2 separate regions of the Homo sapiens genome follow, and region 2 is linked to region 1. A link means that fine-mapping ties the variant in region 1 to the expression of a gene that starts in the linked region. Tissue or cell type: whole blood. Region 1 holds a variant in brackets; the other region holds the start of a gene. All regions are shown on one strand. Distances are from middle to middle.

Region 1 (5,484 bases):
TGGAAGCTGCGACGCCCTGCACTGCTCCCGCCTCCACCAGCGCCTCCCACTGATGTCGTGGTCCCGGGCCTGGCCCAGGGGCCCCTTTACATGCCCTCTCCCTTTTATAAAATTTTCCATTAAAAACCACCTATTTTCTATCTTTTGCCTCCTCCTGTCTATTTCTCCAAGTCTACCCCAGTTTGTGCTTTGAGTCACTAAATGACATTCCCTTCCCTTCTGACCCCTAGTTTCGTCTGTCTCTCTGCCTCTCTTGGTCTCTGTCTTCCTTCTCTCTCTGTCTCTGTCGTTCTATCTCATCTCTGTCTCTTTCTGATTTGTTTTCTCTGCCTAACCTCTACATCCTGTCTTTTCATTTCTGTTTCTGCATGCGTCTTTCTCTTTTCCCTTCTCTTTGTTTGGTTCTTTCATCTCGAGAGCAATCTTGCCTCTGGATTTTTTTTTTTTTTTTTTTTTTTTTTTTGAGATGGAGTCTCACTCTGTCACCCAGGCTGGAGTGCACTGGCGCCATCTCCATCCACTGCAACCTCTGCCTCCCGGTTTCAAGCGATTCTCCTGCCTTAGCCTCCCAAGGAGCCGGGATTACAGGTGCACACTACAACCCAGGCTAATTTTTGTATTTTTAGTAGAGACGGAGTTTCGCCATGTTGGCCAGGCTGGTCTCAAACTCCTGGCTTCAGGTGATCCACCCACCTTGGCCTCCCAAAGTGCTGGGATTACAGGTGTGAGCCACCGCACCCAGCTTTTATTTTTTAGAGATGAGGTCTCCCTATGTTGCCCAGTCTGGTCTCAAATTCCTGGGCTCAAGTGATCCTCCCACCTCGGCCTCCCAAAGTGCTGAGATTATAGATGTGAGCCACCGTGCTTGGCCTAGAAGTCTTAAGCTGTCCTGGAACAAGTGGGGCAAGAGCAGGGAGCAGGAGTCCCTGGAGGGCCAAACCCAGACCTGACGCTCCAGCTAGGAGTTGGCTGTGGATGGAGTATGGAGCGGCAGTCCTGACAGCTGGAGGCGGGAATGAGCTCTGTGTGTGATGGTGGAGTGCCCAGCACGGACCTCCTCCATGTGCCCTGCCTGCTTACTGGCCATGTTCCTAGTCCAGACTCCTCCTCCCTAAAAAACAAGAACGGCCTAGATCAGCATAAACTTAGGGCAGGAGTAGGGGTCGGGAATCGTGGGTGATCAACTTGGCACTGGGCCAAGCTGGGAAAAAAAAAAAAAATGTACCTCAGCCAGGCGCGATGGCTCACACATGTAATCCCAGCGCTTTGGGAGGCCCAGGCAGGCGGATCACGAGGTCAAGAGATCAAGACCATCCTGGCCAACATGGTGAAACCTGGTCTCAACTAAAAATATAAAAATTAGCCCGCCATGGTGGCATGCAACTGTAATCCCAGCTATTTAGGAGGCGGAGATAGGAGAATCACTTAAACCCAGGAGGCAGAGGTTGCAGTGAGCCGAGATGACGCCACTGCACTCCAGTCTGGCGACAGAGCCAGACTGCATCTCAAAAACAAAAACCCACAAAACTGTACCTGTCATTCTTCACCCACCTGTCAATTCTTGTGTCCCCAGGGTTTCAAACTCATATGCTGCAAAGACCAGAACCGGAATGTTAGCAGGAAGCAGGGAAAATTGAGGCACACATTACCTTCTGCCTAAGGCTTGGTTAGACTAGGAAGGGGAATTTTCCCCATTGTTAATACTTTTTTTTGGCCTGGCGGGGTGGCTCACGATTGTAATCCCAGCACTTCGGGAGGCCAAGGCAGGATGATCACTTGAGCTCGGGAGTTTGAGACCAGCCTGGCAACATAGTGAGACCCCATCTCTACAAAAAAGTAGCTGGGTGCGATGGTACATGCCTGTAGTCCCAACTACTTGGGAGGCTGAGGTGGGATGATTGCTTGAGCCCAGGAGGTCGAGACTGCAGTGAGCTGTGATCGTGCCTCTGCATTCCAGCCTGGGTGACAAAGGCATACCTTGTCTCCAAAAAAGTTTTTTTTAATGTATATTTTTAATAACTATCTGATATTGTTTGGCTGTGTCCCCACCCAAATCTCATCTCAAATTGTAATCAGAATTGTAATCCGGGGAAGGACCTGGTGGGAGGTGATTGGATCATGGGGACAGTTTCCCCCATGCTGTTATCGTGATAGTGAGTGAGTTCTCACAAGATCTGATGGTTTTATAAGGGGCTCTTCTCCCTTGGCTCGCTGTCTCTCCTGCCGCCTTGTGAAGAAGGTGACTGCTTCCCCTTTGCCTTCTGCCATGATTGTAAGTTTCTGAGGCCTCCCTAGCCATGCAGAACTGTGAATCAAGTAAACCTCTTTCCTTTATAAATTACCCAGTCTTGGGTGGTATCTTTATGGCAGAGTAAGAATGGACCAATAGGGCCGGGCACGGTGGCTCATGCCTGCAATCCCAGCACTTTGGGAGGCTGAAACAGGTGGATCACCTGAGGTCTGGAGTTCAAGAGCAGCCTGGCCAACATGGTGAAACCCCATCTCTACTAAAAATACAAAAATTAGCAGAGCATGGTGGTGGATGCCTGTAATACTACCTACTCGGGAGGCTGAGGCAGGAGAATCGCTTGAACCCAGGAGCCGGAGGTTGCAGTGAGCTGAGATTGGGCCACTGCACTCCAGCCTGGGTGACAGAGCAAGACTCTGTCT[CA/C]AAAAAACCAAAAACAAACAGAAAAAGACTAATATAGTACCCTATGGGGCCTATTTGGCCTATGAGGCTCCAGTTTTAATCCTCTAGGCACTGCTGAAATTGCATAAATTGTGGATTGGAGGCTGCTTCCTGACCTGATCTCCAGCCCACCCGCTGAGTGTCAGGAGGGGTCACATGCCCAGCAGCCTCCTGTGCTACATCGGGGAATCATACTAAGAGCGCCTACCCTGCAGGATTGGTGGTGGTGGTTAAATGAATTGTCATATATGTGCTTAGAATGTCACCTGGTACAGAGCAAGGGCTCAGTCATTGTTGGCATAACCCTGGGCCTCCCAGGATATGCTGAGCCCTGTGGCTGGGCAGATAGTAAGGTCTTGTTCTTTTCTCTTTTCCTTTCCTTCTTCCTTTTCTTTTCTTTCTTTCTTTCTTTCTTTTTTTTTTTTGACATAGGGTCTTGCTCTGTTGCCCAGGTTGGAGTGCAGTGGTGCCACCATGGCTCACTGCAGCCTCAACCTCCCAGGCTCAAGTGATCCTCCCACCTCAGCCTCTCAATTAGCTGGAACTGCAGGCATGTGCCACCATGCTCAGCTAATTTTTTAATTTTTATTTTTTGTAGAGAGGGGACCTTACTGTGTTGCACAAGCTGATCTCAAACTCCTGGGCTAAAGTGATTCTCCTGCACTTTGGCCTGCCAAAGTGCTGGGATTACATGTATGACCCACGGCACCTGGCCTGGCTAGGTCTTTTTCTTTACCAATTCTCCCTCCCAGGGTGGAGGAGGAGGCCAGACCCCATCCCCTTCAACAGGACAGTGAGAAACACCTAACACAAGGCCTTGGTGGGGAGGAGTGTCAGACAAGGAGTGGCTCAAGGCTCCACAAAGGGGTGACAGTTGCACAAAACTGTCTGTACCAAAAATCATTGAATTATACACTACACATGGGTGACTTGTGTGGTATGTGAATCATAAGTCAATAAAGCCCTTCTTTAAAAACGCCGACTCTACAAAGCGTTTCAGAAAGTTACCCTCCAGCTGATACAGGGAACCCGACCCAACCACTAATTCCTCAGTCATTCATTCAACAAATATTTTCCTGCTTTGCAATAAGTGAATTCGAGGAACACAAACTTTAACCCAGCCTTGGGGGGTGGTTAGGGAGGGCTCCTGGAGGAGGAGATGTTGGAGCTGAGAGTTGATTACTGTAGGGAAATGAGCAAGATGAAAGGGGTGGAGGTGCCTATAATCCCAGCTACTCCGGAGGCTGAGGCAGGAGAATCTCTTGAACCCGGGAGGCAGAGGTTGCAGTGAGCCAGGATTGCACCGCTGCACTCCAGCCTGGGCAACAGAGTGAGACTCTGTCAGAAAGAAAGAGAGAGAGAGAGAGGAAGGAAGGAAGGAAAGAAGGAAGGAAAAGAAAGAAAGAAAGAAAGAAAGAAAGAAAGAAAGAAAGAAAGAAAGAAAGAAAGAGAAAGAAAGAAAGAAAGAGAGAGAAAAAGAAAAGAGAAAGAGGTGGAGAACCATGTTCCAGGTGGAGGGGACAGCACTTCCGAAGGCCTAGAAGTAAGAGAGCAAGTGTCTGTTAGATGTCTTTCCTTTGGTATCTAAGGCCTGTATTGGACAACAATGGTGACAATCTTGGTGCCTGAGAAATCCCAGGCCCTTGCCTTCATGGGGGACACCGACACATCACCACACATGAGAGCCTGTGCTGTATGGGGGAGGCACAGGCAGGGGTCAGGCTGCGGTGGGGGAAGATCAGAGGGCATGCATGCCCAGAGGAGACACTTGATCCAGTCTGAGAGATGATCAGGGAAGGCTTTCTGGAGAAAGAGACAAAGCTCTGAACAGTCTCTGTTTGGGCGTCTAGATCCCTTTGAGAATCTGTCGAAAGCTCATTCACAGAAGAAAAACTCACACAAACAAAGGTTGCAGGCAATTTCCAAGTATTCTCATCCTTCCTCGGAATCTTCTGTGGGTATCCCATTCCCACCCCGCCCCCACAACCACCTTGCTGCATAAATGTCCCAGGAATTGCGACAGGGCTGGCCAACAGTGCTGGAAAACTGCAATCGAATTTCAGCATCCTGGGAGTGGGATCTTTCTTCTGAGATCTCGCCCGCCGCCGGGCCTGGAGGGTGTGCCCCATGGATCTAATTGTTATCCTGCCTGCATCCCCTGCACTAACCCCCAGACCTGGCGTTGGGGCTTCTGGCACTGGCCGGGACCGACGCGTTCTCCTCTGGAATGTTCAGAGGGAGGTAGTCCAGGCGGTCACCGCGCTCGCCAGACAAGCAACGCAGCGCCCCCCGATGGCCACCGCGCGCCGGCGCAGCCCAAGCCGGCTGCGCCCCCTAGTGGCCGATGCTCGTAAAGTCTTCAGCGAGCCCCGAGCTTTTGCTAGCCAGCCCTTGGTTTTGCAGGCTGGGGTCATCGTCGTTGTCATCGTTGGCATCATCATCATCATCATCATCATCATCATCATCATCAATAGCTAGTAGGCTTGGCGTGGTGGCCCACACCTGTAATCCTAGCACTTTGGGAGGCCGAGGCAGGTGGATCACTTGAGGCCAGAAGTTCGAGACCAGCCTGGCCAACATGGTGAAACCCCGTCTCTACAAAACAGTACAAAAAAGCAACCGGGTGTGGTGGTGGGCACCTGTAATCCCAGCTACTCGGGAGGCTGAGGCATGAGAATAGCTTGAACCTGGAAGGCGGAGGTTACAGTGAACTGAGATCGAACCACTGCACTCCAGCCTGGGCAACAGAGTGAGACTCTGTCTCAAAAAAAAAAAAAAAAAAAAAGCTATGATCA
Region 2 (6,114 bases), 59 kb after region 1:
GCATGCAACCACCCACAAACAACTGTCCCCAAGGATGGCCTCCCTCAAGACACAGCCATGGTGGTCCTATAGGCATGGCCACAGCATCAATGTCCATGTGACCCAGCCACCTATCATGGTCATAATCCCGTCACCCAGTGTCCATACACAGCTGTACCATGTCACTCCAATGCAGCGAAACATATAGCCTTTCTTCATGCAGGCACACAAGTCACACAGACAAGTATGTGGCCATATAGAATCACAGCCCCGTGTGGACAGGTGCACAAAGTCACAAGCCCCACCTACACACATATCTCACACATAGAGACATAAGCACACAGTTTTAGTTTCCCATGTCACAAGTACACAGTCCAGTGTATGCACATAAATGCAGTGACCAGGATGTGGCATTTATAGCTGGGTTTACACAGAAGACACAGGTCCTGACGGAGCCATGTGCACAGTCAGGGGCCAATCTCATCACCAAATCACACATTCTAACACAGGTAGTCCAGCACATACACACAGAGACAAAAACAGGCACACAGCTACAGACCCCACACTCTCACAGATGATGACATAGACACAGACATCTATAGTCACCCAGGGTCAGACATGCAGGTCAAACACAATAATATGGAAGCCATAATCATATACACACCCCTACAAACATAATTTCCTGGCACCAGCACGGAGACACATCCACAGCTTTAGTCACACACAAATAATCCCTCTAAATAGCCAGGGTTTCAGACACCAAGTCAAATACATAACCCAAATCACACATGCAAGGCTAGAAATACACACAATCACTCGTTATCACACACACTGCTAGATACAGTCATTTATATTAATACAACCTCAGTCACACACTCAGACATGGTTCTGCATACGCAACCACTGTCATACACAATACTGTCACACAACCCCAGTCACACAGATACAATGTGACTTCAGACACAATGGCAGTCACACAGGCAGAGTTGCACAGACAGGTGTGTGTCACTCACGTATATAAAATCAGGTAGAGACACAACTATAAACATTGTCAGTCACTGGGAGGGTCACACATGCACATGGAGCCATAGACAACTCCACTCACACACAGTCACAACTCCACCCACGTCCTGTCAGTCACACGCATGCCCACCCCCAGACTCAACACATACTGTCACATACCCAGTTATAGTTACCGAGGCATACAAACACAGGGTCACAAAAGACACAATCACAGACAACCACAGTCACAACCATGCACACCTCCAAACACAGACAGACTAAAAAGTACAGGATTCTGCACAGTGAGCAGCTGTCACACACACATACACAGTCACACAGATACTAGGGTCACAGACACAATCATAGACACCACCACAAGCACACACACACGACACAGGATTCCTCAGTCACCAGCTGCAGCGTACGCGTGCACACACACACACACATACACAGCCACAGTCACACAAACACAGGGCACACTCCTAGCCACCTCCCCATCGCTTGCTTCCCCCCTTCCCCCCAGGTACCACACACAAAGCCGCCGTCACCGTCACCGCAGACACTGCAGACAGACAGGGCTGCACCCGGTCCCTGGGGAGCCGCCCCCAGCCCAGCCTGTATCCTGGAGCCTGAGGGCCAGGTCCAGGAGGGGGAAGCGGTGCATTGTCTGCGGGTGGGGCCACTCTTGGACAGCTGGGCAGCCCTGGGGACAAAGGGGGTGGCCTAGGGATCCTGTGCCCTGGGACCCATGACCAAGCCAGGGGGTGGAGGGATTGGGGGTTGCCTGAAATTGTCCTTATTTTATTCAGGCTGGGGTGGGGTGGAGTCCCAGGCACAGGGACCTTGTTTTGAGAAGTGGCTGTGCCTGGGACTCCGCCCAAGGATTGGGGGGATGCTGTGCCCAGGGTGCCTCTGAGACCTGGGGGCAGGCTGTGCTTGGAGTCCCCCTAGGCCTTGGCGTGGTGGGAACGCTGTACCCAGTGACCCCATCCTCGAGACCGTACCTAGGCAGTTGTTGTGCTGAGACCCCCTTAGGCAGGGAGAGGTAGGGATTGTGTCTGGAATCGCGTCCTGGAGGCCTTGGTTTGATACGGGGGCTGTGTCCCCGACCCCATCTCCATCCCCATCTAGTTCTAGGAGTTGTACCTAGAATCTCTGTACCCCTGTCCTTGGTTTTGTGGGGGGTCTGTGTCCAGGATCCCTATTTCCAGGGCCTTGGCAAGAGATGGCCCAGGGGTCTGTGCCCAAGACCCCGGTCTCCTGGGCTTTGGCTTGTTGGGCCTGTTCCTGGACCCCCACCCGGGACCACCCTCTCCAGCCTTGGCACCCTCTCTCCATCCGGGCGCCGCGGCCGCCTCCCACCCTCCGCCACATCAGCAGCGGCGCCGCCCCCGACCCGAGCCCCCCTCTCCCGCCCTTCTCACGCTGGCCGCCGCGCTGCGGGACATCCAGGGCCCGGGCGCCCCCGCCTCCCGCGGCCCTGGCTGGGCCTGGCTCCCCGACTGCTGCTGCTGCGGTGGTGGCGGCGGCAGCTCGGTCTGACGCCGGCCAGGGCCCGGGGCCGGGGGATGGTGCGGGATGCACGCGCGCGAGCCTCCTCGGCTCCCGGGAGGATTCCGTTCCGGGGGCGGGGGAGCGTCCCTCGGCCTCGGCTCCCCGCCCCGACCCCGCCCATTGGCCCGCCGCCTGCCGTATATGCAGAAAGGTCCCGCCCCGCCCCGCCCCTTGGCCTGAAGACCCCGCCCACACGCAGACACCATCCCGCCTTCCCCGGCGCGGCCACCGCCCCGCCACGCCCATTGGCCAGTCCCGAGCTGAGCATGCCTATGAACATCGCCGAGTCCTTTCCCCCGGTCCGTCCTGGCCTGGGCTCCCTTTCCCTCCGTGACACCTGACCTCAGATCCCCTCCAGCTCCGCGTCCGAAAGAGTTGCTTCTAGAGGCGCCTTGCCGCCCCACACCCCCAAATCTTCCCGCTAACCCCATGGTTCCCCAGCCCGGCGGGGGCGGGCAGGAGCGGTGACGAGGCACTTTTTGCAAGGAAGGGGAGGGGGTGTGAACAGACCAAGGCGTCCTGATGCGCGATCGGTTCGGCTTTGGGAACGGGGGCGCCGGGGTGGGACCAGGGCGCGGTTCTGGCCGCTACGGCGCCCCCGCCGCCCCCTACGCCAATCCTGTGGGTTTGGCAAAGCAGCTGGCAGGGACATTAGAGCCCATTAGTAAAGGCGAGGTTGCCAGGAGTGAGGGGAGGGAGCCCGCAGCCAAGAGGCACTGTGTGTGTGGGAGGCCTCAGCTGCCACAGCCCTTAGAGCAGGTGGTCAGCACGTGGGGGGGGGTGGGGAAGGCGAGAAGGAGGTTCCCGGCAACAGATGGCACAGGCAGGGCTGAGGCTTTCAGACAAGGGGGTGCAGGGGGGCTGGCCATCTGCACCTGGAGGCCGCTGGCGAGCTCCTCCCCCTCTCCCCCCAACCCTAGCGCAGAGAAAAGAGCTGGGGGAAGGGGAGGGCTGCTTTTATTCCGATTGAAGATTCAGCTCCCCCCCACCCCGCACCCCTACCTCTCCAACACACTGAGAGGCTGGAACCCGGGAGAAGGCAGCTGTTGGAGGAGCGAGGGAGGCAGAGGTGAGGACTGCCTCCAGGACCATCTCGCCTTCCACGGGAGGCTTGAGGCAGAGGTGAGGGCTCCCCCTGATGAGTCTGATCTGCATAACGACATGCAGCGGCCCAAGGCTCCCTCAAATGTTGGCAAAGATAAGTTAACCGCTTCCCTGGCTTAGTTTTCGGATACCCACTTTCGAGTGGGGAGGTGCAGGATCTAGGGCACGAAGTTGGGAGTTCCCCAGCCCCAGGGATCCTGAGCTCCTGGGCCAAGGAGGAGAGCCAGGCAAGACTGGGAAGCCCAAGGGGGCTCCTCTGACCCAGGGCAGACGGGGAAGGGATAAGAGGCACTACAGCAGGGTACGGCCTGCTCTGGGGACTGAATCCCCCATGGAGGCTGTCATGAGGGATCCACCCAGGAGTCCCCTTTGGTGGGGAGGCTGCCGGCAGTGGCTGCGTCTGGCTGGCGACTGGCCCAGTAGCGGTGGTAGGTGTCCTGGAAGAGGTCCCTGCAGGCGATGTGGGCTCGGAGGTGGGCACAGGCCAGGAAAGCCCCTGCCAGCTTGCGGTGCAGGGCATAGGTCTCCTCGGGTGGGGGACACAGCCGGTGCCGCAGCAGCACCGGGATGAGGTCCTGTATGCGGCGGGCCGTTTCCCCCGACCCAAAGTCATAAGGGCCCTGGGTGGCGAAAGGCTCCCCCAGGATCATCACTGCCTCCACGTGGGCGTCGGAGAATGCCTGGGAGTGGGGGTGGGGGGAGAGCAAAGGCAGCCAGTGTGGACATAGAGCCCTCTGCATAACCCAGAAACAACGTGTAGCCTCCACTCCCTCCAGTCTCCACCATCAACACAAGCCCCGACTCCCCCAAGAGTGAGCAGCTTCCACTCCTTCCAGAGCCTGGACTAGACAAGCAGCTGCCTATTCCCCGAGTAAGCACCCCTTACTTCCCTGCAGAGCCTCCAACAGACAAGTAGCCCTCTACTCTCTCTACAACAGAGAAGCGGCCTTCGCCCCTCCTGAACAGATCCACGGTGCCCATGTTCCCAGGGTTCCTGAGAAGTCAGGCAGCCACCTCCCCCCACTCCTCCCCAAAGCCCCCAGCATGGATAAGCATCCCTCCTAGAGTCACCCACTCCCCAGGTATAGACACACAGCCTCCATTCTCCCTAGTGGAGACAAGCCCCTCCTAGAGTCCCCCAGTCCCCGGGTATCGACATGCCCCATCACCTACTCGAGTTCCTCAGTGGAGATAAGCAGCCCCCCACTGCACCCCACCAACAGACACCAGCCCCTTTCTCCCCCAGTGTCTCCCCACCTTGGTTTCAAAGCCTGTGAGGAATTTGAGGTCCCTGGACTTCTGCAGGACACAGTCTCTGTCTCCATCAGCTGCAGCCTTCACCACCTGGGGAGACGGGTGGGAGTTAGAGGGACAAAGGCCGGGGCTCAAGGGGGCTCTGGAGAAGAGGAGCTGGAAGCCTGGGCCTCCCATGTACCCACCTCCATTCTCATCTGCCTGGGCCCTCCCTCACCTGGAAGCTTCCTGCTCCCAACTTTGCCTGTCTGTGACTCCCTTAAAGACTCTTCCAGAGCCTGGGAGTGGAGGTGGTTAGGGATCCTGCCCACCTAGAGGGCAATGTGGGGCCTGCCCGGGAACTGCCACAGTGAAACAGTGCAAGAAACAAGTGTCAGGGCTGCTGGTGAGTCCAAACACTCAACTGGACGGGTATGAGCGTGACCCAGAACTGCATCCAAAGTTGCCAGGGGCCATCTCTCTGTCTCCCACACTGGACTTTGAGCCCCGTGAGAGCAAGGATCCCAGTTGGGTTTAGTCGCACGGGGCACAGGGTCTGGTGCTGAGGAGGCCCTGGGTGAACCTTGCTTTAGCAAATGAGCGTGTGGAGCAGAGCAGCTCTCCAGCCATGAGCTCACACACACAGGGCAGGAGTTGTGGGCATGGAGAGATGCCCAGCTGGGGCCAGCTGGCTAGGGTTCCGTCCCAGCTCTGCCACCTGCCGGCCTGTTGGGCCTCCACTTTCTCATCTGTGAAGTGGGGATGCCAAAAGTGCCTTCCTCATGGGGCTGTTGGGAGGATAAAGAAGGTGATGCCTGTGGCCTGCCTGGCGCTGTGTCTCATGCAGGAAGCACCGTAAATACTATAATCTACCATTATTAAGAGGTGGGCACGGGGGTCCCTATTTCACAGAAGGGGAAGCAGACCCGGAGTAGGGAGTGGAACCGGGTCACACCACTCACTACTGGGTTGCCCTTTTTTGTGAGGAGGGGGATTCGGGATTAATTCCATTCCCTCTCTGCTCCCCCTGCCCGAGCATGTCTGGCCATCTGTCAGGCCTGTGGTCCTCAGAAGCCAGGGCTTTTATAAAGTGGCAAAGGCTGCAGGCCTGGGTGGGAGGGGAGGGTGTCAGTGGGGAGAAGAAGGGTCTCAGCTTTGTGCCTCAGTGGCCGGCAGAGAGGGCCCCAAGGGGCCTGTGTGTAAGGGGTTATCACCTCCTCTTCCTGTTCCTGTCTCAGAGGT

The links. PIP is the estimated chance that this variant, and not a neighbour inherited with it, causes the effect.
Region 2: it holds the start of NUMBL, and the variant in region 1 is fine-mapped to the expression of NUMBL in whole blood (TOPMed, PIP above 0.99).

The regions. Positions count from the first base shown.
Region 1 is chr19:40,629,679-40,635,162 of GRCh38, forward strand. It overlaps LTBP4 (latent transforming growth factor beta binding protein 4), which reads left to right. Exons shown (of 30, transcript NM_001042545.2): 30 at 1-140. Among named protein-coding and RNA genes, the nearest start is that of LTBP4, 31 kb to the left of the region's middle. RefSeq lists an enhancer at 1,222-1,812. The variant CA/C (reference allele first, on the strand shown) is at 2,671.
Region 2 is chr19:40,688,055-40,694,168 of GRCh38, forward strand. NUMBL (NUMB like endocytic adaptor protein) reads right to left here and starts at 2,597. Exons shown (of 10, transcript NM_004756.5): 1 at 2,406-2,597. The coding sequence starts at 2,429. COQ8B (coenzyme Q8B) reads right to left here. Exons shown (of 15, transcript NM_024876.4): 14 at 4,897-4,983; 15 at 3,476-4,319. The coding sequence ends at 3,981. RefSeq lists enhancers at 888-1,827, 1,501-1,550, 2,766-3,703 and silencers at 2,390-2,729, 3,050-3,289.